Linked DNA regions of Homo sapiens. The protein of the gene in region 2 purifies or fractionates together with the protein of the main gene of each other region. This does not show direct contact. Each region holds a gene or a part of one and is shown on either strand. Other genes may lie near its edges.

The links.
Region 1: the proteins of ASB8 (region 2) and IARS2 purify together in Homo sapiens (affinity purification with mass spectrometry; 2 studies listed by BioGRID and IntAct, with this or other methods). This does not show direct contact.
Region 3: the proteins of ASB8 (region 2) and SLC25A6 purify together in Homo sapiens (affinity purification with mass spectrometry, with the first as the bait; one large-scale study listed by BioGRID). This does not show direct contact.
Region 4: the proteins of ASB8 (region 2) and KIF26B purify together in Homo sapiens (affinity purification with mass spectrometry, with the first as the bait; one large-scale study listed by BioGRID). This does not show direct contact.
Region 5: the proteins of ASB8 (region 2) and RUFY3 purify together in Homo sapiens (affinity purification with mass spectrometry; one large-scale study listed by BioGRID and IntAct). This does not show direct contact.
Region 6: the proteins of ASB8 (region 2) and TRMT61B purify together in Homo sapiens (affinity purification with mass spectrometry; one large-scale study listed by BioGRID and IntAct). This does not show direct contact.
Region 7: the proteins of ASB8 (region 2) and SLC25A13 purify together in Homo sapiens (affinity purification with mass spectrometry, with the first as the bait; one large-scale study listed by BioGRID). This does not show direct contact.

The regions. Positions count from the first base shown.
Region 1 is NC_000001.11:220,104,132-220,107,631, forward strand, and holds part of IARS2 (isoleucine--tRNA ligase, mitochondrial precursor), read left to right. Parts: intron 1-1,759; coding exon 1,760-1,929; intron 1,930-2,929; coding exon 2,930-3,020; intron 3,021-3,500.
Region 2 is NC_000012.12:48,154,716-48,158,998, forward strand, and holds the start of ASB8 (ankyrin repeat and SOCS box protein 8), read right to left. Parts: upstream 2,801-4,283; 5' UTR 2,744-2,800; intron 2,543-2,743; exon of another isoform or gene 2,407-2,542; intron 1-2,406. UniProt on the Homo sapiens protein: May be a substrate-recognition component of a SCF-like ECS (Elongin-Cullin-SOCS-box protein) E3 ubiquitin-protein ligase complex which mediates the ubiquitination and subsequent proteasomal degradation of target proteins.
Region 3 is NC_000023.11:1,385,652-1,389,113, forward strand, and holds the end of SLC25A6 (ADP/ATP translocase 3), read right to left. Parts: intron 1,769-3,462; coding exon 1,628-1,768; intron 1,109-1,627; coding exon 951-1,108; 3' UTR 501-950; downstream 1-500. UniProt on the Homo sapiens protein: ADP:ATP antiporter that mediates import of ADP into the mitochondrial matrix for ATP synthesis, and export of ATP out to fuel the cell.
Region 4 is NC_000001.11:245,686,485-245,689,984, reverse strand, and holds part of KIF26B (kinesin-like protein KIF26B), read right to left. Parts: coding exon 1,178-3,500; intron 1-1,177. UniProt on the Homo sapiens protein: Essential for embryonic kidney development. Plays an important role in the compact adhesion between mesenchymal cells adjacent to the ureteric buds, possibly by interacting with MYH10.
Region 5 is NC_000004.12:70,763,464-70,766,963, forward strand, and holds part of RUFY3 (protein RUFY3), read left to right. Parts: intron 1-88; coding exon 89-206; intron 207-1,011; coding exon 1,012-1,113; intron 1,114-3,500. UniProt on the Homo sapiens protein: ARL8 effector that promotes the coupling of endolysosomes to dynein-dynactin for retrograde transport along microtubules. Acts by binding both GTP-bound ARL8 and dynein-dynactin.
Region 6 is NC_000002.12:28,849,321-28,853,309, reverse strand, and holds the end of TRMT61B (tRNA (adenine(58)-N(1))-methyltransferase, mitochondrial precursor), read left to right. Parts: intron 1-810; coding exon 811-902; intron 903-2,011; coding exon 2,012-2,238; intron 2,239-2,699; exon of another isoform or gene 2,700-2,904; coding exon 2,905-2,982; exon of another isoform or gene 2,983-3,067; coding exon 3,068-3,111; 3' UTR 3,112-3,368; coding exon of another isoform or gene 3,369-3,460; 3' UTR 3,461-3,489; downstream 3,490-3,989. Other genes in the region: SPDYA (speedy protein A), read right to left, coding at 3,369-3,460.
Region 7 is NC_000007.14:96,119,720-96,123,098, forward strand, and holds the end of SLC25A13 (electrogenic aspartate/glutamate antiporter SLC25A13, mitochondrial), read right to left. Parts: intron 2,279-3,379; coding exon 2,120-2,278; intron 2,027-2,119; coding exon 1,936-2,026; intron 1,659-1,935; coding exon 1,472-1,658; 3' UTR 501-1,471; downstream 1-500. UniProt on the Homo sapiens protein: Mitochondrial electrogenic aspartate/glutamate antiporter that favors efflux of aspartate and entry of glutamate and proton within the mitochondria as part of the malate-aspartate shuttle.

The DNA.
Region 1 (3,500 bases), on a different chromosome or scaffold from region 2:
CCCGGCTAATTTTGAAAAAATATTTTACAGAGATGAATTCTTGTTGTGTAGCCCAGACTGGTCTGGAATTCCTGGGCTCAAGTGATCTGCCTGCCTTGGCCTGCCAAAGTGCTGGGATTAAAGGCGTAAGCCACTGTGCCTAGCCCAAAATAATTCTTTGTGAGCTATAATTTGGGACTTTTGAGGTAGTGACTGCTTTGAAATATAATTATGGAAGTCTAGGGAAGTTTAAAATTAGCTTTTTGTTGTTGTTGTTCTTCATTTTGTTTTGAGACGTGGTCTTGCTCTGTTGCCCAGGCTGGAGTGCAGTGGTGCCATCTTGGCTCACTGCAGCCTCTGGATCCTAGGCTCAAGTGATCTTCCTGCCTCAGCCTCTTGAGTAGCTGGGACTACAAGTGTGTGCCACCATGCTGGACTAATTTTTAATTTTTTTGGTAGAGATGAGGTCTTGCTACATTGCCCAGGCTGGTCTTGAACTCCTGGCCTCAAGTGATCCTCCTGCTTTGGTCTTCCAAAGTGCTGGGATTATGGGCATGAGCCACTGTGCCTGGACTAAAATTCTATTTTATTTTATTTTATTTTTAAAGAGATGAGGTCTCACTATGTTGCCCAGGCAGATCTTGAACTCCTGAGCTCAAGTGTTCCTCCTGCCTCTGCCTCCCAAAGTGGTAGGATTATAGACGTGAGCCACCATGCCTGGGCTAAAATTATCTTTGATCCTTAGGTATGATATATCTTTTAATTTCTTGCTAAAAAATCTATCACATGAATAAAGATACAAAAACTGCCTAGAAAGACTGCCTAGCTAAATAGGAAAGCCCTCTAAATTAATCAGTTCAGATACAAGCCAATGAGAAGTTTAAACAACCTTAACAAAAATAAAAAGATTTTTATGTCAGAGGCAGGAAAGGAGCTTAAGAATTTTGAAGACCATTTGGTCCTCTTTGGTGCAATAGGGTAATAAAAATAAAAACCAAGATAATAATTTACTTCACACCCTCTCTCACTGTGTTGCCCAGGCTTGTTTCAAACTCCTGGGCTCAAGCAATCTTCCTGCCACAGCCTCCCAAAGTGCTGCAATTACAGACATGAGCTACTGCACCCAGCCCCCTGCTCTTTTATAAATGCAGAGGATATTAAAGACTTCATTGTCAAGTTATACATTATCATAGAAGCTAAAAATCACAAGATTTTTGAAAGTGTTAAGGTTGAATTTAAAGATCTTTTGTCTAGATAGCATAATTGTTTCAAATTCTTACTATCAGATAATTATTGAGTTGCTATTTGAGTCACCATATTGTGGAGGAGTATATATATTATCCCTGTCAAAATAAGCTGGTGTCACGTAGCTACTACTTATTAAAGTAGTAGGAATGTTGAAGAGCTAAAAATGAAGTAATTTGTATGGGGTAGGTTTTCTTTCCGGAAAAAAATGAATTATTTCTTATCAATTACTTAGAGATCATTTTGGGAGGGTGGTGAGGGAGAATATTAAGTGGTAGATGCAGTAAGTATCAAAACACTTAAACTACATTAACTCTGTTTATTCTCACAGAAACCCTCTGAGGTGGGAACCATAATTATCTGCATTTTATAGATTATAGAAGGTCACAGAACAAGTTAAAGGGGAAGCTGGAATTTAAGCCTAGCCAGTATTGTTCTAGATTCTGCACATTTAACCTGATACTCTATTGCTAAGCTTAAGGAGATAGATTTGCCATATAAAATGATTCTTAATAGTGGTTTTCTTTCCCCACAGGTGTAGATTTGGAAAATGGTACTTGCAGTCATCCATTAATTCCTGATAAAGCCTCTCCTCTTTTACCTGCAAATCATGTGACCATGGCAAAAGGAACGGGATTGGTTCACACAGCCCCAGCTCATGGTATGGAAGACTACGGTGTAGCGTCTCAGCACAACCTGCCCATGGTACTGTTCCTCTTTTATCATTTTTAATTATTCATCTTAATAAAAGGAAATGATAAATTCTAACCAACATCTTCATTTTTTAAAAATGATGACTTTTGTCATCATAATTGTGAAATGCTCAGGTTTGTGTAGTACTCTAAAGTTTCATTAATTCGTACTAATTGAAAAAGATTTCCCAGAATTAATAGAAAATTAGCACTTTAGAATTGAAGAATATATATCATGGGGCACTTTTAAAATACTTTTTTTCTAGTATCAAGTCACATAGACAAATTACTTTTATTCCCTGAAAAAGCCTGTTTGTTTTAGCTAAACAGTCCTTTCTACATTTACTTTACATACTTCAGTTACTTAGCAAGTATTTCCGTTTAGTTAAAAGGTGAGTCAGAAAGGGAACAACTGTGTATATAGGCATAGATTTGGAAACAATAGAGACCACTCAAAGATGTTTTAATATATTTTGTTACTTTTGTTATTAAAGTTTATGGATATGCTTCAATAACACATTTTGGCTTTGGTGATTTAAATGTATAAAATTCACAAATTCCTATTTCCTTTTCTTTTCTTTTCTTTTTTTTTTTTTTTGAGAGGGAGTCTTGCTCTGTCGCCCAGGCTGGAGTGCAGTGGTGTGGTATGATCTCGGCTCACTGCAACCTCTACCTCCAGGGTTCAAGCGATTCTCCTGCCTCAGCCTCCCGAGTAGCTGGGACTACAGGTGCACACCACCATGCCTGGCTAATTTTTGTATTTTTAGTGGAAGTGGGTTTCACCATGTTGGCCAGGCTAGTCTCAAATTCCTGACCTCAAGTGATCTGCCCACCTCGACCTCCCAAAGTGCTGGGATTATAGGCCTGAGTGCCGCGCCCGGCCAAGTACCTAGAATTTCAATGTAGAAAAAGACCAGGCTATACTGAGATGTTTTTATATATATTGTTTTGCCAGATATTGTCATAAGAGAAAATGTCTTGATATTTTAATTGTTCAAAATGATACTTTATAGGATTGTCTAGTGGACGAAGATGGAGTTTTCACAGATGTTGCAGGTCCTGAACTTCAAAACAAGGCTGTCCTTGAAGAGGGAACTGATGTGGGTGAGCATCATATCTGTTGATATCATACATGTTTTCTGAAAAGTAGGTAGCAGTAACCTTTGCTACCTATTTTCCCTCCTTATACTTTAACAGAAACAAAAAAATAAATTATGTCTTGTTTTGCCATATGTTTTAAAATGGAGTTTGGGACTTTTTCATCTTTTGCTTTGAAGCTGCTTTATTTAAGCAAGTCAGGGCAGTCAACAGGGAGTGAAGTTATTTTAGGGCTATGGAGATAATAATCAGCAGTATTACTTTTGTGGAAGGATACAATCAAGATCAGGGCTGGATGTTGACTGTAAATTACACATTCCCTACTCACTTTTTAACCCTTGTAAATAACTGACCTATATGGCATGATTTATGTATTAGAATCTTGGGAATCCTCCAGCCTTGAATTGTCTTTCTGTCTTCCTTTACAGATTCAGAGACCAAGTGCTATGAAAACCTTTCTTTGCCCACACTAAGACTAAGGCTATT
Region 2 (4,283 bases):
TCACCTGAGGTCAGGAGTTCGAGACCAGCCTTACCAACATGGTGAAAGCCCATCTGTACTAAAAATACAAAAAAAATTAGCTGGGCATGGTGGCGCACGCCTGTAATTCCAGCTACTCGGGAGGCTGAGGCAGGAAAATAGCTTGAACCCAGGAGGCAGAGGTTGCAGTGAGCTGAGGCTGCACTACTGTACTCCAATCTTGGCAACAGAGTGAGACTCCATCTCAAAAAAATAAATAAAATGAGTGAAAATTTTTAATAATTGGCTATTCATGGCAACTGAGAAATAGATTTGGTGAAATATATGTTGAAACCACAATAGGACAGAGTTCTAGGATGGAAGAAGAAAATAATGCAATATACTTCAATTCAACTTAAAAGGCTTGGCTGTATAAGAGACAAGAGTTAGGGACCATTTAAAATTACAGCCAATAAGGTAGAACACTTCTATGAAACAGTACATATCAAAAACAATAGGGAAAATATAATACACAGTATCAGCTCTCTAGGTGCAACTGCTTAGAAATCTGTGTTCTTATTATAAGCTCTTTGGGAATAACGATACTGATTTTTTCAATAGTACCTGAACACATGGTAGGTTCTTAACATCTGTTGAACCAATGTAAAGTTTATTACTTTAGATCCTAAGAAATTCAAGACTTGAAATAAATAAGCACATTACCCATATGAAATTGTTTTGGTCATTTAATAATATATAATGTTTTGGCGGGGCGCGATGGCTCACGCCTGTAATCCCAGCACTTTGGGAGGCCGAGATGGGCGGATCACTTGAGGTCAGCAGTTCGAGACTAGCCTGGCCAACATGGTGAAACCCCGTCTCTACTGAAAATACAAAAAAATTAGCCAGGCATGGTGGCATGCACCACCCCTGGTAGTCCCAGCCACTTGGGAGGCTGAGGCAGGAGAATCGCTTGAACCTGGGAGGTGGCGGTTGCAGTGAGCTGAGATCGCGCCACTGCACTCCAGCCTAGATGACAGAGTGAGACTCCATCTCAAAAAAAAAAAAAATATATATATATATATGTATATATAGTCTTTTGCTTTATTTTTTTTTTTTTGAGGCGGAGTCTCACTCTGTCATCTAGGCTGGAGTGCAGTGGTGCGATCTCAGCTCACTGCAACCTCAGCCTCCCAGGCTCAAGCAATTCACGTTCCTCAGCCTCCTGAGTAGCTGGGATTTACAGGTGTGCACCATCACGCCCAGCTAATTTTTGTATGTTTAGTAGAGACAGGGTTTCACCATGTTGGCCAAACTGGTCTCAAACTCCTGACCTCAGGTCATCCACCTGCTTTGGCCTCCCAGAGTGCTGGGATTACAGACATGAGCCACCATGCCCGGCCTATTTTTGCTTTTTGTGATTGTGTATCCCTTTATATATTATATACTATAAATTCTGATAGTTTCTATTTTGTGAATCAGTAGCCATTTATAGTAGATGTAAATTCCATTAAAAGAATGCAAGTAAAAATATTCATATGTATCGATAATTCAAATTAGGTATTTTTCTCCCGTTATCATGCACGGATAAGCTGACACACTTGTTTATATGTCTCTATGACATTTTCTAGATAGTTTAGATTTGGCATGTGTTTTAATCTCTCCAGTAGCCACTAAACTGCTCTGAGACAAGTATCTGTATCTTATAATTTTTTTGTTTCAAGGAAAAAAAAAGACAAGTGCATTTGAGTTGGTAATTCCAAGAATGGCAGCAGAAGACAGAGCATCTAAAGCAGGAGGCTTGGACCAAAGTGGTTCTGTTGCCTGTAATCCCAGCACTTTGGGAGGCCAAGGCAGGAGGAACTCTTGAACCTGGAAGTTCAAGACCAGCCTGAGCAACATGGCGAGACGACCCCAAAACCCAATCGTCTCTACAAAAAAATTCAAAAATTAAAATAAATAAATAAAGTCGTTTTGTTAACCATTTCTGGGCCATGATAATCGGATGAAACTAAATCCTGAACTAATTTCCCGGGCGCTCTTGGGCTCTGGGCTAAGAACTCCTGAGAGTATGGTCAGTGGTCTGCTGCTGCCTGGAAGCTCCCGGTAAAGGAATGAAACTTCAGGGCAGACAGCATTCACTTCAGGAATGGTCAAGGAAAGCTAAATTCGATCTCACTAGACAGCAGCCCGTGTAAGGTTTGATCCCCTTGGAAGGCCCTTTCCTCTGCTAGAGCTGAAAGCCCTGTCTCCCTCGTTTTCTTTTGCTACGGGATCCAGAGAAAACACCAAAGGGCACTTACTGAGAAGCTGAAAAAAAAAAAAAAAAAAAGCAAACTGGAAAAGAGAAGACACAACAGCTCTGATGCGAGGGAGGCCTCGGCCCCGCCCCCTCCCGCCCCGGGAGAACCTTGGCCGAGCCTGCAGCGCCCGTAATCCCCACCGCACCTGCTGCGGGAGGGCCCGCGGCAGCTGTCTCGCTGAGGCTAGGGGGCGGGGGGCAAGGGCACGAAACGCAAGGACGTGCGGTGTCACTTTCTGCACGGGCTCTAAACAGATCGCAGCAATCCCGGTAGGTCCGGTACTGAAAGAGAATCACGCAATTTGCGCTGGGGGGCCTCAGACGCGGACCAACCCCCTCTTCGATCTGCCTTCTAAGGCCCGGAAATAAGTCTCAGCCTCGAGAACTAGAGCACTTCGACCAGGGAGTAGAGGAAGCGTTATTGGGCGTGGTACCCTGGGTTAGGAAACCTGGCTGTAGACCCACTCCAAGGACCGCACTCACCGAATTGCTGGGCTGAGGTGGGGGTTGAAAGCCGCTGTCAAGGCGTGACCCGGAAGCAGAAGCTGTCGGGGGCAGGCCCTCTGTTTACCGGACTAGAAGACCAACTAAGATGGGCGCCTGCGCACTGATGAGTGTTCGTCAGCGGGGCGCGCCTGCGCAGACTTGTGCAGCAGCTTTCGCCCTCCAGAGGCCTAGTTAGGGGGTTACTTTCTCCTTTTACTCAGAGGCTTTGCGCGCAGGCTCAGTGCAGCGTTCTCGGCCACAGCCGCAGGGTTCGGGTCTTGGTCCTGCAGCGGGGATAAAAAAGCTCAGGAACCCTGAGTGTTGGGCCGATTCTATATGGTTGCACCTGCGTGGACCAGGCCAGCAGGGGTCCATCCACAATGGTTCAGTTGCTTAGGAGACTAAACTCTTAGTAGGAAGTGTCTTTGACAAAAATACTTACAGCATTATTCATAATGGTGGAACGAATCTATGCTCCTTAGAACCCTCCTGTACATGTCCACCCTCCTTCAAGTAAACCATATCAAAGACAAACTCAACCACCCAAGAGGTGTAGTATTCTAAATGTAGAGGAATAAATGACCTTTATAACTCTTATTAGGGTTAATGAAACTTCCCGCACAAAAACATGATGACACCTCTGAGTGACAGACTTTCTGTGCAAAGCATAAACATTTTGAAGTCAGCAGCACATGGTGGTGGTGCATGGAAGGAGTGAAGCAGCAGCCCATTTAGGCAGACTGCAAGAGTTGTGGTCTGCCCGGTAGCCTGTTTAACCAGAGTGCCCCACACCTACTCCCCAGAGCTTGTTCTAAGCAACCAAATCTAACCAATTAGAGATTTAAAGCAGGCCCAGACAGATCATGTACATCAGTAAGAGGATGGTAAACTGAAAGTTCATGACCTGGTCTGAGGAGTGGGCCTCCTTTGAGCTCCAGACTCAAAGGAATTTTGCCAGGTAGGAATATGCCCTCCACTTCCTGCCACTGCACCATGGTGAGATCGTCCATTTTTCAAAAGAAGCTGAAATACAGATTTTTTTTAAAAAGTGAATTTTTCCAAGTTGCAAATGTTGGCAATGTTTTTATTATTATTATTATTATTATTATTATTATCATCATCATTATTTATTTTTGAGATGTAGTTTCGCTCTTCTCACCCAGGCTGGAGTGCAATGGCGTGATCTCGGCTGGCTGCAACCTCAGCCTTCCGGGTTCAAGTGATTCTCCTGCCTCAGCCTCCTGAGTAACTGAGACTACAGTCACCTGCCACCACACCTGGCTAATTTTTTTTTTGTATTTTTATTAGAGATGGGGTTTCACCATGTTGGCCAGGCTGGTCTCAAACTCCTGACCTCAGGTGATCCACCCTCCTCGGCCTCCCAAAGTGCTGGGATTACAGGCATGAGTCACCACACTGGACCACATCTCTCAAATTTCTTGGTTGGGAAATGCTGAAGTATATAAATTCTGGGAAACCATCAGCATCTTACAAATGTAAGAATGAGCGGAGTCTCCCAGGGAGTGATAAAATAGGC
Region 3 (3,462 bases), on a different chromosome or scaffold from region 2:
GTGGGGGTCTTTGGGAGTCATGAGGCCTCATGGATGGGATCAGTGCCCTTACAGAAAGGACTCCAGAGAGCACCCTGGCCTCATCCATCATCTGAGGACACACAGGGAGAAGGCGCCATCTAGAAGCCAGGAACTGGGTACTCACCAGAGACTGAATCTACCATACCTTGGTTTTCTGGGACCTCCAGCCTCCAGAGCTGAGACATGAGATCATACAAATGCTCTCAGAGAGGGTACAGTAAGTGCAGGTGCCCTGGGGTCCTCCAGCATTTATCAGGGAGCCCGGCTACACTTCTGCCAGCCTTGGTTTCTACCCCCCGCCTCTTCCCAGCTGTGACCCTGCCCTCTGTGCCCCAGGGGTGCTGGGGAGGAGGCAGCACTGCAGACCAGGAACGTGGGCCAGCCACGGGCAGAGCGTGGCCCCATCTGCGTCCCGTGGGCCCAGCGCCCATCTCCAGACCCCAGGCCGCCCTGTGGAGAGGTGCGTGGCCAGGCAGGAGGACCTCTGCGTCCTCTGTTTATTGTTTTGCAGCAGGAGGCCCAACATAGAACATACTCGCCAGTACTCGGCTGTGCAAAACAGGGGCTAGCGCTGAAGTACAAATGGGAAAACGTGATTCTTTTGTTTTAAATAAATACTTAGAACACGACTTGGCTCCTACAAGCATCTGGACTCTAGGTCTCAGTACTGGAGTGTCTCACCCATGGGCCCCACGCAGGGACGCCACGGTTCCCTCCCACCCCGTGATCAAGACACGGAATCGGCTGCCGATGGTTGGATCGCAATGCGCCCCTTTTCTAGAGCCTTCCCCGGCCATCTACAGGCAGGATGCGGCTGGGAAAAAGACAACTGGAATTTCTCGAAGGTTGATGGTCCGCACGGTTGAGGATTCTACGTGGTTCTCTTGGTTCCCCTGGTGTGTGTGTGTGTGTGGAGGAGGCCGCGGCCCTTAGATCACCTTCTTGAGCTCGTCGTACAGGACCAGCACGAAGGCGCCCCCCATGCCCCGCAGGACGTTGGACCACGCACCCTTGAAGAAGGCCTTGCCCCCCTCATCTCTGAAGATCTTCCTCCAACAGTCGACGGTGCCCGTGTACATGATGTCAGCTGCAACGACAGGGAGACAGTGAGGGCCTCGCCGCCAAGCTCTTCAAGACACGGACGCCACCTGCACCCACAAAGACGTTTCACAGAAATAACACCCCAGACGCCTGAGCCACAGTTCTGATTACAGGAGGGATACCTGAGGCTCCCCCAGCTCAAGCCCTCCTCCTAAGCCACTGTCTCAGGGAGGGCTGGACACAGGACTTCAGGCCCCGCCCTGGGTGTCCCCCATCTCCACCCCGGGGTCCATGCAGAGAAGGCAGGATCGAGGGTGTGGGTGCAACCAGAGGTTCTAGGAGGCGGGGATTTAGAAACTGCCGCCCGGACCATGAAACCCCAAAAAGATCAGAAGCCCATCGTTCAGGAAAATCCTTCCACACAGCCAGGTTACTTTCGGACACACTTGCTTGTCTCACACGCCCTGGAAGTGCCTCCTTTGATGGTTCCTGACCTCCCACGGGCCTAGGGCAAGGAGCTTGGTTCCCCTTCCCGGCAGCAAGGGTCCCCCGCCCCCCCGAGTACCTCCTTTGCGCCCGGACTGCATCATCATGCGCCGCCGCACCGTGTCGAAGGGGTAGGACACCACGCCGGCCACGGCCGTCACGGTCTGCGCGATCATCCAGCTCACCACGATGTGCGTGTTCTTGGGGTCGGGGAGCATGCCTGCGCGGGAACGGCACGTCACCGTCTCCAGCGCCTGCACGGCCACCCGAGACCAGGGTCGGCCCCCAGGGTGTGCTCACGGCCCCCTGAGGTGGTGCCGAGCTCTTCCGAGACCACCAGTGCCCCCTCCACGTGGCTGCTCAGTGCCAGCTGACGTTTACAACACGAGAGGTCGGGGCAGGGCCAGAGGGGAAAAGGCCGCCTGCCACCTACCGGAGCCCAGCAAGACAGTCCCAGAGGCCGGGGTTAGGCCTGTTTGGGGAAGGGAATAGGGCCCTGACCTTCTGAAGGGTCACCGTTACTATGGGAGTTACACTCTGTCCTCAAAATCCACATGCTGAAGTCCCACCCCCACCCCAGGACCTCAGGATGCAACTGTACTTGGATATAAGGTCTTGAAAGAGGTAAGACTAAAGGAGGCCAGTAGGGTGGGCCCTGATCCTACGACCCCAGTGTCCTTCTAAAAAGAGATGAGGACACAGACACACGGAGGGATGACCCTGTGAGGACACAGGGAGAAGACGGTGTCTACAAGCCAAAAAGAGAGGCCTCAGAAGGAACCAGCCCTGCCCACTCCTTGATGTCAGACTTCCAGCCTCCAGGACTCCGGGAGAATCAATGTCTGCTGTTTATAAGCCACCCAGTCTATAGTATTGTTTTAGGAGCCTGAAATGGACTAAGACACCTCATAAGAAGAGCAGATAAGGACACAGACACACACAGAGGGATGACCCTGTGAGGACACAGGGAGAAGACGGCGTCTACAAGCCCAGGAGAGAGGCCTCAGGAGGAACCAGCCCTGCCCCACACCTTGATCTCAGACTTCCAGACTCCAGGATTATGGAAGAATCAATGTCTGTTGTTTACAGTCCACCCACTCTATGGTATTCTGTGATAGCAGCCTCAAATGGACTAAGACATCTCATCAGAAGAGGACACGAGGACACAGACACACACAGAGGGACGACCCTGTGAGGACACAGGGAAGACGGAGTCTCCAAGCCCAGGAGAGAGGCCTCAGGAGGAACCAGCCCTGCCCACACCTGGATCTCAGACTTCCAGCCTCCAGGACTGTGGGAGAATCAATGTCTGTTGTTTCTAAGTCACCCAGTCTATGGTGTTCTGGGATGGCAGCCTGAAATGGACTAAGACATCTCATAACAAGAGATGAGGACACAGACACACACACAGGAAAAAGCCTGAGAAGACAGCATCTCCAAGCCCAGGAGAGAGGCCTCAGGAGGAACCAGCCCTGCCCATGCCTTGGTCTCAGACCTTCAGCCTGCAGGACTGTGGGAGAATCAATGTCTGCTGTTTACAATCCACCCAGTCTATGGTATTCTGTGATAGCAGCCTGAAATGGATTAAGACATCTCATAACAAGAGGAGATGAGGACACAGACACACACAGAGGGACGACCCCGTGAGGGCACAGGGAGAAGACGGCATCTACAAGCCTAGGAGAGAGGCCGCAGGAGGAACCAGCCCTGCCCACACCTGGATCTCAGACCTCCAGCCTCCAGGACTGTAGGAAAATCAATGTCTGTTGTTTATAGTCACCCAGTCTATGGTATTCTGTGATAGCAGCCTGAAATGGATTAAGACATCCCATAAGAAGAGAGGATGAGGACACAGACACACACAGAGGGATGATGCTGTGAGGGCACAGGGAGAAGACGGCGTCTCCAAGTCCA
Region 4 (3,500 bases), on a different chromosome or scaffold from region 2:
CCTTGCCCATCATAACTTACTGTCATGTGCCACCCAAGACTCCAATTAACAAGTCTGTGGGCTTTATATATTAATTATTCTGGAGTACGTGCCTTTTGATAGGAGATTCTTAAAAATGACAAAGACTGACTGGGTGTGGTGGCTCACGCCTGTAATCCCAGCACTTTGGGAGGCTGAGACGGGCGGATCACTTGAGGTCAGGAGTTCGAGACCAGCCTGGTCAACATGGTAAAACCTTGTCTCTACCAAAGATAGAAAAATTAGCCAGGCACGGTGGTGCACGCTTGTAATCCCAGCTACTCAGGAGGCTGAAGCAGGAGAATCACTTGAACATAGGAAGCAGAGGTTGCAGTTTGGCAAGATCACGCCATTGCACTCCAGCCTGGGCGATAGAGTAAGACTGTCTCAAAAAAAGGAAAAAAAGAAATGGCAAAGACTTTCTCCAAAATCACGCATTTCAGGCATCATGGTGTGTGTGGCGGGGGGCACTGCAGGCCCTGTGGCAGGTGTGCAAACATGACTGTCCACAAATATGTTTGGGGTGGAGGTGGAGGAAGGGCCTCGCCATTCCACTTTCAATGGGACAATCTGTGCGTTATCCCACATCCCTGAGAGAGGCTGCCAGGGTCTTGCAGGCCACCAACCTCACAGGAGGGGCTTCTGAAGCCACCAGGTCATGAGGGTAGGTACCCTCACCTGATCCCTCAACAGGCTGTAAACCGTCCACAGGATCCTTGGTTGTTGAACAGAGGGGCAGGGGTGAGGGAATGGACGGCGAAGAGCCAGGCTGCCCCCAGAGCGAGCAGGTGCGGGTCATGCTGCCACCTGCATCCGGGCCCTCGCCTTTCCACCCTGCTGAGCGCCAAGGGATTCACGGCCCTAAGCCTGATGACGGCACGCAGTAGGGCAGTTTCTCACAGAGAAACCCTCCGCGGTGATGTCCCCGGCGGAGCCCCGCGGGGTGCCGGGCCGTGGGAAAGGAGAGGCCAGGCCTGGACGCCCCCTCCCCAGGGCACGGGACACCCTGGCAGTGGGGTTTGGGCAGTTCGCCCACCTGCAAGGAGAGGCCAGGCCTGGACGCCCCCTCCCCAGGGCACGGGACACCCTGGCAGTGGGGTTTGGGCAGCTCGCCCACCTGCCGCCCTCCTCACCCGCGTCCCTGCGCCCAGCCGCCTACCTGGATTGGAGCGTTTCTTCGGGGTCTTGAGGCTCCGGCACCTGCCGCCCACGGAGCTGCTGTTCTCGCTCGTGGAGTCCTGCGCCGAGGACGCGCTGCCGGTGGCCTCGCTGTCCCGCATCACGCTCTCGTAGCCGCTGCTGCCGCCGCTGTGGTAGAACAGGGCCGTCTTCCCCATGGCCGGCGGGAGCTCCCCGCTCAGCACGCTGCTGTTGTCGCTGCCGTGGCCGCTGCTGCAGCGGTGGGGCCTCCGCGGGGGCGTGATCTTGCTGTAGGGCGACGGGAGCAGGTGCGCGGCCGCGGGCTCGTCCTCGGCCAGGGCCCCCCCGCGCGCCTCCGCCTCGGGCCCGGCCCGCAGCTGCAAGCCCCGGGCGCCCGCGCCACCCTGCAGCAGCTCCGAGATGCGCCCGCTGACGGCCCGCAGGGGAAGCTTGGAGGCCAGGCCCGAGCTCCTGTTCCTGCTGAGGGACTGCGTGGACCAGGGCGTGTGCTTCCCACCGGGGGGCGAGCTGGAGCCCTGGCCCACCGCCTGCGGCAGGGACTTGGTGGAGAAGCTGAGGGTTTTGGTGGTGGAGGCGGACGGGCCGCGCGCTCTGGGGCTGGCCAGGAGGAGTCTGCTCACGGCGGAGATCTTGGACTGGCCGGCCTTGGGCGAGGCCCCGGAGCTGGGGGGCGAGGTCCCGGCGCTGCGGCCCAGGCTCCTCCCCGCGCGGGGCATGGTGCCGTCCTTGCCCGCGTGCAGCCGGGAGCTCACGGAGGACAGGCTCTCGGCCCGCTCCAGGGAGAGGCATTCGTAGTGGCTGACTGTCGCCCTGCCCAGCGAGTTGCTTCTGCTGGCCAGCTGCTCCAGCTTGGCACTGAAGAGCTTGCTGCTGCTGCTGGCGTCCTTCGTCTTGCCGCTAGGCTCGTCTGGGAGGCCCGCCGGGAAGGCGGCTGGTTGGTTCAGGGGGCTGCTGGTGCCGCTGCCGCTGGCACTGTGCTGAGGGCTGGCCCGGTTCTTCTGGTCCAGGCTGGACTTTCGGACAGGGGGCAGAGGGGGAGTCCCTTTGGGCCGAGCCAGAACACAGTGCTTGGGGGAAGCCACCTTCCCCTCCAGGGTAGCCTTGGAGGGCGGGGTGCCCGAGGCTGCACCCACCCCGTTGGTCTCAGCAGCGCAGTAATAGGAGAGGCTGTCCGGCTCCTCCTGCCGGCTGGCCTTCTGAAAGGCCCTGGGAAGGCTGCTGGACTTGACGCTTTTGTTGGGATGCACGGGGCTCTGGGTGGCCAAACCGGGCAGGGCCATCTCACACCCATCCACGACCCTCCTGAAGTTGTCAGTGACCGGGGAGGCCGACACCTCTCCGCTGCTGCTGCTGAGCCTGTCTCCCGGACTGGGCTTTCCGTCCTGCTCCTGCTCTGCTCTGGTCTCAGCATTCGAGGGGCCCGTGGCAGTCTCACACCTCATCATCCCTTCTTCATTGGGATGAGCCGTCTCTTTTTTCACTTCCTCTTCTCGTTTCAGCCACGGGTCCTCAAATTTCATCTCTTTCTTTGCACTGTTTTCCTTACTCTCCCGGGACTGGGCTAATGTGGGGCCTGCTTTGGGGGTGGCGGTGGGGGCCTCCGGCTCTTGGATGTTCCGGGGGCTCATGGCAATGCAGGGGTAAACTGTGATATTGGTCTTCATGGGGATGTACCCCTCGCAGCTGCTCAGATTGGCCGTGTTGGAGATGGTGACCATGGCCTTGCTCACTGTGGATATTTTGCAGCCTTTGATGGGGGCTGCTTTGTTGAAAGAGTCATCTCCCATCTCAGACAGGATGAGCAAGTTGTCGGGGCTGGCCTTGGGCTTCTCTCTGCACACCACAGCGGTGTTCTGGAGGCTGCTGACAAACTCCGAGGCCACAGGTTCTGCCATTGCCTCCCCGTGCCCAAAACACGTCTGGGCTATGAAACTGTGGCACGACTGCTCACCCTCACTGCCCGCGCTCATCTCGCTCAGCCAGGAGCTGATGGAAGAGCGTCTGCTCCCTGCGTCCTGGGCCTTCTCATCCAGGCTCATCTTCGGGAGGGGCAAGAACTGTGTGATGCTGACCTCGGAGACGGGGGCCGTGCTGGAGTAGCACTCCAGGTCCTCGCTGATGCTGCTGATGATGCTGACGGGCCGCGAGCCCGAGGCCAGGGCCCGTGCAGAGCAGTCGCTGTTGAAGCTGATGATGCTGGTGGGGCGGCCGCTGTCCAGGACCCCGCTGATGGTCAGCTCCTCCACCAGCGTGAACACCAGCTCGTCCTCACCGTTCAGCTCCAGTGGCTGCTGCACCGTCACCATCGTGGTGCTCAGGAT
Region 5 (3,500 bases), on a different chromosome or scaffold from region 2:
AAAAGTTGTGTGTGTATGTGTGTGTGTATTGAGAGTGCGCTTATGTTGTAAAGAATATTAAAATACTGCTTTATTTTTGTTGCCTTAGCTAAAAAAACTTTTCTCGGACAAAATAAATCCTTCTGGGGGCCTCTAGAACTGGTAGAAAAGCTTGTTCCAGAAGCCGCAGAGATAACAGCAAGTGTTAAAGATCTTCCAGGACTTAAGTAAGTCTAAGGTTGAATTCCATTTCTCAGGAACAGCATTCTTATTAACTATCCCTTGAAGAGCAAGACTAAAGACAATTATGTACGAATAATTTATTTTATAACAATCCAAAATGCATGATGTCATGAATAGGTGCTGACAGGAGAGAATTGGTATACAGAATATTGAGAAAAATGTGCTCTTGAGGGATAATTATTCATCTAAGAGAGATTGTCTTTTTGTTGAAATGCCAAACATTTGCTTATTTTTTAAAGCACTTGGGAGAATCATATCTAAGGGGGTGGCATGCTGTACTTGACTTAGGGAAAAAAGGTATTCAGTGGGTTTGAGAGTCAAGATTAAAACAGCTGTCAAATTAACCTGAAGAGCTAGTGACTGTAGCCTGCCTTAGAACTATAAAGTAGTGACCACCTTCCCAAATGAGACTGGTTTAATTTTAATCAGACAGAGGCCTAGATTGCCTGTGTCCACATTCATGCTTTGGACATTTATATAATCCACACTGAATTTATAAGGATTTGCTATTATTGATCTGATGGAACATTTTTAGTTGGGTCTCCCAGAGGCTGTGTCTTCAAATTGTAGTTACATTCAGTAATTCTTTTTGAAAGCATTTGTTCCGGGTCACATTAGCCCACACACAAAAATTCCTTGCATGGGAATGTACTGGGAGAGGTCCTGAGGAGCACCTCAGTGTGCTTGTTACACTGGAATACCATTAGCAAGAATAAGTGAACTGATTCTACTGTAGCCTTTGCTTCTGGTGCTTATGTTTTCAGTTGTTTGATTTCTGTGTTTTTGTAGGACACCAGTAGGTAGAGGAAGAGCCTGGCTTCGTTTGGCATTAATGCAAAAGAAACTTTCAGAATATATGAAAGCTTTGATCAATAAGAAAGAACTTCTCAGGTATGAACACCTTCTTGAACTTTCTTCTTTCCTTGGTATGTTCTACATCGTATAAAGTCAAACCATATAAGTTCACTATTTTTGTAGATCAGAAACATTTGATTCATAACAGCTTCACTGATACTTTCTCTCATACCTCACACACATATCCTCCCAAATGGATGATTTATGTTATGTGTGTTCTGTCTGTCACTGTGGCATATATTGGTCCTTTCCAAGGCAGGCCAAGACTTACCTCTAGAAAACAGAAGGCACCTTAGCATGTGCCCAGGCTCAATAAGACAAGAACTTGACATGTAGCATTAAATTCAAATATAGCACAAAATTGGACGGGTGCAGTGGTTCACGCCTGTAATCCCAGCATTTCGGGAGGCCAAGGTGGGCAGACCACTTGAGGCCAGGAGTCTGAGACCAGCCTGGTCAATATGTCGAAACCCTATCTCTACTAAAAAAATATAAAAATTAGCCGGGCGTGGCGGTGGACACCTGTAATCCCAGCTACTTGGGCGGCTGAGGCACGAGAATCGCTTGGACCTGGGAAGTAGAAGCTGCAGTGATCCGAGAGCGTGCCACCACTCTTCAGCCCGGGCGACAGAGTGAGACTCTGTCTCAAAAAAAAAAAAAAAAAATGTGTATATATATATATATATTTGTAAAATCACAAAATCTTCCAGTAGATCATAGATACAACTGGGAGAGGCAAAACAACATTATTTTATCCGTCTTTATTATATGATTCCATTGTATAAAGGTCAAAACTAGGTAAAATCAATCTATGGTGATAGAAATCAGGATAATAGTTACCTTGAAGAGGTGGGGGTAGAGATTGGAAGAGAGAAAGAATCCGATTTCTAGGATTTCAGTACTGTTCTCTTTCCTGATCATGATAGTGATTACACAGATAGATGTGTTTTTTGTGAAAGTTCATGGAACTAACAGTTAGCTGAGATTTGGAAATGTGTGAATGTTGGAATTCAGCCATATTCCACTTCTGAACAGTTCATAAGGTTAGGCTTTTGGGACAATAAACTGTCAAAGAACCTTGTTCATTCCAGTTCTACTCAGTTTCCTTCAGAGGCTATCAAAGAACAAAAATAGCATGTGATCAGTTTTTGAGAGAAACAGTAAATTTGCAGCTCATTCACTTGCTGTTTTTGTGCTATTTTGTCATTTGTTAATATCTTTTTTTTTTTTTTTTGAGACAGAGTCTCACTCTGTCACCAGGCTGTAGGCTGTAGTGCAGTGGCGCTATCTCCACTCACTGCCACCTCCGCCTCCCGGGTTCAAGCGATTCTCCTGCCACAGCCTCCTGAGTAGCTGGGACTACAGGCGCACACCACCACACCCAGCTAATTTTTGTATTTTTAGTAGAGACGGGGTTTCACCGTGTTGGCCAGGATGGTCTCGATCTCTTGATCTCGTGATCCACCCACCTTGGCCTCCCAAAGTGCTGGGATTACAGGCGTGAGCCCAGCCTATTAATATCTTTTATAGTGAATCAGAAAAGAAATAAGGAACTAATATCAGTGAATTATATTGATTGTTAACAGTGATTGAGGTTGACCTTTACCCCCAGGTAACTTGTTGAAAACAAATTGATTGCAGTGTTGTTTTAATCATGATGTCAAATTGACTGAAAATGAATAATTCAGGTCACTGGGTTTTCGTGTTTTGTTTTGTTTTGCTTTAAGAGACTCGCGCTCTGTCACCCAGGTTGGAGTGCAGTGGTGCAATCACGGCTCACTGCAGCTTCCACCTCCCAGGTTCAATCGATTCTCCTGCCTCAGCCTCCCGAGTAGATGGGACTATAGGCATGCACCACCACACCTGGCTAATTTTTGTATTTTTAGTACAGACAGGGTTTCACCACGTTGGCCAGGCTGGTCTTCAACTCCTGACCTCAAGTGATCCACCTGCCTCAGCCTCCCAAAGTGTGGGGTTTACAGGCGTGAGCCACCGCACCCGCCTGTTTCCATTTTTTTAAAAAATCTAAAAGACTATTTTTTAGAGTGGTTTTAAATTTATAGCAATATTGAGTAGAAGGTACAGATATTTTTCATACATACCCTTCCCCCCTGTACAACCTCCCTCATTATCAACATCCCACAGGAGTGGTACATTTGTTACAATTGATGAACCTACATTGACACATCATTATCTCCCAAAGTTCATAGTTCACATTAAGGTTTACTCTTGGTATTGTATGTTTTATGGATTTTGACAGATGTATAATGATATGTATCCATATGTCATTATAGTACCATACAAAATAGTTTCATGGCCCTAAAAAATCCTCTGTGCTCCACCTATTCATCTCTCTGTCCTCCAACCCCTAATAACCACTGATCGTACTGTGATTGTACTGTTGTTACCAGGGGTTTACTGTC
Region 6 (3,989 bases), on a different chromosome or scaffold from region 2:
CAGCTACTCGAGAGGCTGAGGTGGGAGGGTTGCTTGAGTTCAGGAGGTGGAAGTTGCAGCGAGGTGACATTGTGCCACTGTACTCCAGCCTGGTCAACAGAGCGAGACCCTGTCTCAAAAAAAAAAAAAGGAAATTCACATTGTCTCAAATGTTTAAATTTTTCATGTTGTAATGGCGTGTTTTACACTTGGCAATATTGATAATACAGGCATACAGGAATCTTTCTTTGGTTATATTCATATATACATACATAGCCAAATCAATATTTCCATATTAATATGCAAAGTACAAGACATATCATTATGATTTTTCAGTATCATCAAGTACTATGACAAATTGTTTTTTCTTCCCTGAGACAGGATCTCACTCTTGCCCAGGGTGGAGTATGATGGCACAGTCATAGGTCACTACAGCCTCGAACTCCTAGGCTCCAGTGACCCTCCCACCTCAGCTTCCTGAATAGCTGGTACTACGGGCTTGTGCCACTGCATCCAGCTACTTTTTTTTTTTTTCAATAGAGTCAGAGTCTCGCTATGTTGCCTGGGCTGTTCTCAAACTCGGCCTCAAATGGATCCTCTTGCCTCAGCCTCCCAAAGTGTTGGGATTACAGGCAGAAGCCACATTGCCCAACTGTATAATAATTAACATACCCTTTTGGGAGTGGTAAAATGATAGTTAATAATACTACCTTCTAAAAAATGAAATACTTTGATTGCTGTCCAAAAGTGTGTCATTTCACCACAATAAGAAAACTTATGCTTTATTTAAACGGAATCAGACTGATCCAGTTCTCTTTTTCCCCCACACAGGTAGCTTTGGATATGTTAAATCCTCATGTTACTTTGCCTGTTTTTTACCCACATCTTAAGCATGGTGGTGTATGTGCTGTATATGTAGTAAAGTGAGTAATATAACTGTTTTTCTTTGTAATGTAACTTTTAAGTGCACTTTTGCTTAAGTATCAAACTAAATTTTTTTTTTTTTTTTTTTTTTTTTGAGACAGAAAAAAACTCTGTCACCCAGGTTGGAGTGTAGTGGTATGATCTCAGCTCACTGCAACCTCCACCTCCCCTGTTCAAGCAATTATCCTGCCTCAGCCTCCCAAGTAGCTGGGGTTACAGGCGCCCGCCACCACGCCCGGCTGATTTTTTCTATTTTTGGTAGAGAAGGGGTTTCACCATGTTGGCCAGGCTGGTCTTGAACTCCTGACTTCAGGTGATCTGCTCACCTGGTCTCCCAAGGTGCTGGGCTTACAGGCTTGAGCCACCACGCCCAGCCAAAATATTCATTTTGTAACTGAATAAAGTGTATATGGCATCTTATACAACTGTTTTAAAATGACAAGTCCCAAGTTCATTTATATTACTGTATATTTATTTAGTGTTTTTTTTTTTTAAACTTTTTTCGTTTTTTTTTTTTTTTTTTTTTTTGAGACAGAGTCTCGCTTTGTCACCCAGGCTGGGGTGCAGTGTCATGATCTCAGCTCGCTGCAACCTCCGCCTCCTGGGTTCAAGTGATTCTCCTGCCTCAGCCTCCTGAGTAGCTGGGATTACAGGTATGCGCCACCACACCCGGCTAATTTTTGTATTTTAGTGGAGACAGGGTTTCACCATGTTGGCCAGGCTGGTCTGGAACTCCTGACCTCAAGTGATCTGCCCCCCTCAGCCTCCCAAAGTGCTGGGATTACAGGCGTGACCCACGCCCAACCCTATATTACTGTTTAAATCATTTTTTACATAAATAGTAATATAAGATGCATATTTTCTTCTGACAATCTGGAAGAAATGTTTTAAAAGTATAATGTGAACAGTAATGTTAAATTATGGTCTCTGTGTTTGTTTACTTAGAATTTTGTGAAGGTACTTTTTATGCCTCCTAACTTGCATATTTAAACCCTCTCCTGCCTTAATTTAACTATGGTATTTAAATGTGGGCAAGAGGTATAGGGAACTTAAATAAATATAATGTTATTATTTTAGTAGAAATGTAAATTTTTCACTTTTCTGAAAGCATCACACAGGTTATTGAACTTTTAGATGGAATTCGCACCTGTGAACTTGCTCTTTCATGTGAAAAGATAAGCGAGGTCATTGTCAGAGATTGGTTGGTTTGCCTTGCAAAACAGAAAAATGGAATTTTAGCTCAAAAAGTAGAATCTAAAATCAACACAGATGTACAACTAGATTCTCAAGAGAAAATTGGAGTTAAAGGTGAGCTGTTTCAAGAGGATGACCATGGTGAGCTTCAGTTTTACTTTATGCATGCAGTAATGAATGGAGAATGAGTTCCTGAGTATACTGACCAATAGATTATAAAAATATTCCTCAGCAATTTTCTATAGAAAAGTGTGATATTTATTCTGTTAAGATGTATAAGGCACAGAATAATGACTTTTCCTGCCTTTTACTTAAAACTCTGATACCTTTGAAGAATTGAGCTTTTTATAATATTCATATTTTACTTGTCACAAGGAGCTTGGTTTGTGAAATAATTTAAATGTATTAAGGATGTTTTATATTTAGATCACTGATTATTAATGGGACCTGATAGGCAAATAGCTAATATTCCAAAAAGCAACTTCTAAGATGCTGCTGGAATTCTTGAAAGAACTGAGTTTAGGTCTTTGTCATATATACACATTATTTAGGCCATGAACAAGTTTTCAAGTATCAGTTGATTTATGATATAGGCTTATCCATTTGGTTATAAAATCATATGTTTATTACATAATCATTGACAAATAGTTTCTGTATAATAACTGGCAGAGTAGCTCTAAAACATATGCAAGGAAATAAATAAAGAAAAAACTTACAATAAAGAGAGTAACTCATATTTTAACAGTTTTGTGAAAAAAATAGAAAATATTTTATGTAGCTTATAGTACATATATTTTTTTACAACAGAAGAATCGCATTCTGATTTTCCATATGGATCATTTCCCTATGTTGCTAGACCAGTACACTGGCAACCTGGTCATACAGGTGAGTAATGTTTTCAGAACATATTAAATGGTGTTTTTTCTTTTAATTAATATAATGACTTTATGTTTTTCTTCTCTTAAATTAGCTTTTCTTGTCAAGTTGAGGAAGGTCAAACCACAACTTAACTGAGTACTCCAGATGACAGTAACTGACTTGAAGATGGAAAAATATCAAAATAGAACTTTATATTGAAAATCACTGCTTCCATAGATTGGCATTTTTAGCTATTACTATGACTTATATAACTTATACATATAATTTTGAAAATAACAACTAAAAGATGTATAACATAGCAAAACTGCTTAAACATCCCATTTTGACACTTGTCTTGCAGTTAGTTTGACATTTTGTAGTTAATGATTCCAAATTGGTTTAGTTGGGCCATCTCATTCTTCACTTCCTGTAAACCACTCCATAGATTTGTCTTTCTTCAAGAAATTAGTTTTCTTTCCTTTATTTGATTGATGGTCATTGACTACTGAAATAAAATATGCATTTTAAGATAAATTTTATGTATCTGTCCATTTTAAATACATCTTATAATGGCTTGTATATGTCTTAAAAAATAATAAGGAAATCTGGGCTACAGTAAATAATGGGGGGAAACTTAAGAATGATATAATCACCTTAAAAATTGTAACAAAAGATGTAACAGGCTCTTGAATCTCTTTTATCCCCTCAGAATCTTTTTAACCAGCTTGAAAGAACATTAGAATTATTCAGTGTTACTACACAAATTAAATGTTTGGGGGCTGGGCACAGTGGCTCACGCCTTTGGGAGGCCAAGGCAGGCAGATCACCTGAGGTCAGGAGTTCGAGACTAGTCTGGCCAACATGGCAAAACCTTGTCTCTACTAAAAATACAAAAATTAGCTGGTTGTGGTGGCGGGCACCTGTAATCCCAGCTACTTGGGAAGCTGAGGCAGGAGAATCGCTTAAACCTGGAAGGCGAAGGTTGCAGTGAGCTGCGACTGTGCCACTGCACTCCAGCCTGGGTGACAGGGCGA
Region 7 (3,379 bases), on a different chromosome or scaffold from region 2:
CAACAGATTAATTAGTAGCCTCTTTGGAAGCATGATCACGGTCTAAGAATAGCCTTAAATCCTGTTCAAGACTAGCTTCTTTCCCCAAATCATTATAGTGCTAGCCAAATAATAGCAAATGTTAGATACAGTGGTATATGGTTTTGGTGTGTGCAAGAGTCAGACTGGATTAGAAAATACGACTGCCATTTCATACCAGTTTTCATGGCTAAGTTCTACTAAAACTATGTGACCTTCATCATCACAATAAACTGCCGAAAGTGCTGGAATGACTAGAACTAAGGTGTCAGTTTGCTAGTTCTTTGCTTATCTATGGTTAAATACAGTTTCTTGTACTCACTTTGAACCATGAAAATGAGGGAACACATTACCTTGAAAGATACTGAGGATATATCCATGCCAATATGAATAAAATTCCCCTCAAAACAAAACATGTAGGCCAATAATGACAATTACTGTATCCACTCACCATGCAACATGCACAAGACCAAACAACTCAATCACTTTACAAATAGTTTATTTCCACCTTCACAAATTCATGCGCCTCTGACCATTATGCAAGGCAACATGAATTAAATACTTATGTCAGAACATATTTGTCTTACATTATTCAAGATAAAGTGGATTTTAAAAGCAAGTGGGTACCAATGATGGGGAGATGAGGAGAATAGGGCAGGCAGCAACAGGGCAACATGCATTTTTCAAGAGTGTTTATTAAAATAGGCAGTAATCAGTACATGTACATCATATGAGCAGTTTTTCAAAATTAGCACTTCCAGGAGAGGGGCTACATCTCAGTTTTTTCTGTCTGTACAGTAAAATGCCAAAAGTACTTCCCTAAAGTACAAAGGCATTTCCCTAGTAGTCTTGGTACCAGTAACAATATGATTACTAAACATCTCCAATGTGGTTTTCATTACAAAGAAACATGTTTCACATAAAAGCTTCATAATATAATCCAGAGACAGAATTTGTGCATGCTTACAATTTGAAGCCAGGCTGAATATATTTGATATATATTTTTTCATTTCTCCCAGTGTTTTTTATTTTTATAAATATGCACCTAGTTTCCTACCAGTTTAAAACACACACGAAACACTGCTCTGAGCACCATGATTGCCTTACAGTAGCCTCTTTGGGACTACAATCCTAGTTCAAGGAGGGGAGTACTAATTTCTATTCTGACTTGCTCCTTTCCCCAAATCATGTTAGTGTTGACCAAATCCCATCAATTTTCAGATGCAAACAAAGGTTTCTGGGCAGAGGGCCAAATAATAATTATGAATAATTTCACAATGATCTGGTTAAGAAAACACCCAGAAAATGAATGATTTCACATGATAAAAAAGCCTGGACTTGAATTTAAACAAGAGATGGACGTAAAAGGGATGAAGCATTGCTTCATTCCCAGGAGGGATGTTCTTTACTGCAGTACCCACAAAAAGACAGCACTATCCCAGGGCTGATCTTCCTATGGGCCTCCACCAATAGCCTTTGAGGTAGATACTGATGGCTTGAAGAGAGGTAGGTAAAGTCCAAATTTGTTTTCAATCCCTGCAAATGTAGCAACTGCCAGTTTGTAGCCCCCAACGTGATCAGGATTCGGGGCAGGCAGGTTGATCCTGGATTTAGGAACTGGCTCTGATCCCATGGGTTTTCTAAAAGAAGAGAAAACAGAGTAAGAAGCTGTATTTTTTGTTTGTTTTAACTTGATAAAAATAACATTCAAAACCTGTTCAAATATTTAATGTAAAGGAGTTGATACATTCTCATCAGTTGTATGTTCCCCTTGGAAATGACCTTGTTAACACAATTTCAACATTTCCCTAAATCTCTTCTATTTTATTATAGAGACTAGACTGAGGTACCTTTCCCTACGACAACAGAGCATTAGCAGCAGCCAAAATTTAGCAGCAGATTTAGCATGATACTTACACTCCTCCAAAATCAATGTAGAACCATCGCTGTAGCAATTCGTAAGTCAGCAAAGTTACACCAAACTGGGGTGAGGATCGAAATACACGAGCTTTAAAAAAATGGAGAAATCACAGATATAATTAGATATTTTAAAAATTTACCTGATACCAAAGAGTTAGTTAAGAACACATTATTTCCATACCACCAGCTCCCTTCCACAGAGCTTTTGGTCCTTCTTCACGCAGTATCTTTCTAAAGCAGTCTATCACTCCGCTGTAAGTGGTTTGGCCAGCCCGGGCAGCCACCTGTAATCTCGTCTTGATAACATCAGCAGGGGTCACTAAAGATGCTGCAGGCATACCTGCAGGAGAGACACAACACCATCTCAGTCTGGTCACATTCTCACTATATAAAAATAACTGTGCTTTGAACTGCTGGCCGTGGAAAGAAAGTTAAAAATCCGATTCAATAAAATGCCTATTTTGCTGTCCTCTATGGGAAATGCAACCATGCCTCTCCTGTGTGCAAGATGTCTGCTCCTACACCCCTCCCCACCAGACTCACACCTTCCCTTGCCCAAATCACTCAGCCTTCATTTCCTTTGTTTCTATTCCTAAATCTTTAAATATTTTTAAGAAATTGTTTATCAATAACACTACTTCAAGTGGTTGAGAATAAGTGGAGAAAGCGGTTTTCTTTTCTTTTTCTTTCCTGTTGAAATCAAAAACTTGCGAAGTTATTAGGTCCGATTTTTCAGAGGTGAAGCTTGTTATGCGTTTCCTCTTCATGGTCTTCTGTGGCTGCTGGCAGTCACAGGAGGTGCTTTCTCTCACACATTCAACCACCCCCTACTCTCCAAACCCCAACCTCTCCAGTTACACCAGAAAAAGACTTTACTGATATCTAAAAAACACTATGTGTGTTGGGGGGTGGGAGGTGGAGGTTTCGGGGAGGGGGTGAAATTGGGAGAAGGAGACTCCTACAGATAACACTTTAGGATTTCTTTTCCCTAAGACTGACATCTCCAGAAAAATATTTGACAGAAAGCTTAAAATTTATACTGGCTGATAATCAATGAAAAAGGAACAACAACAACAACAGAAAACCCTCCCAAAGTTACCAATGGGAAATTTTTCTACAGTCACTGTATCCAAAATAGGGCAGTGCATGTTTAGATTTTTTAAAAGCGAGACTGTACTCAGAAGACACTGTCTCTTATGGTTTTATTACTTTTCCATTATGAACTTATTCCAAACCAAATTGGTCAAATGCAGATGCATAAATCTCCTTTGCTTTTTTTAAGGCTTAATAATTCTGTAAGAATTTCTGTCCAAACCAACATGGTCTGGCTCACAACTACATTTCATCCTTCTAACAGACAGCTTTAAAGTTACAGTGAGTTGGAAGGGGGGTGTAAATCTGCATACTACACGCTTCCATTTATATTACTGAAGGAGTATCT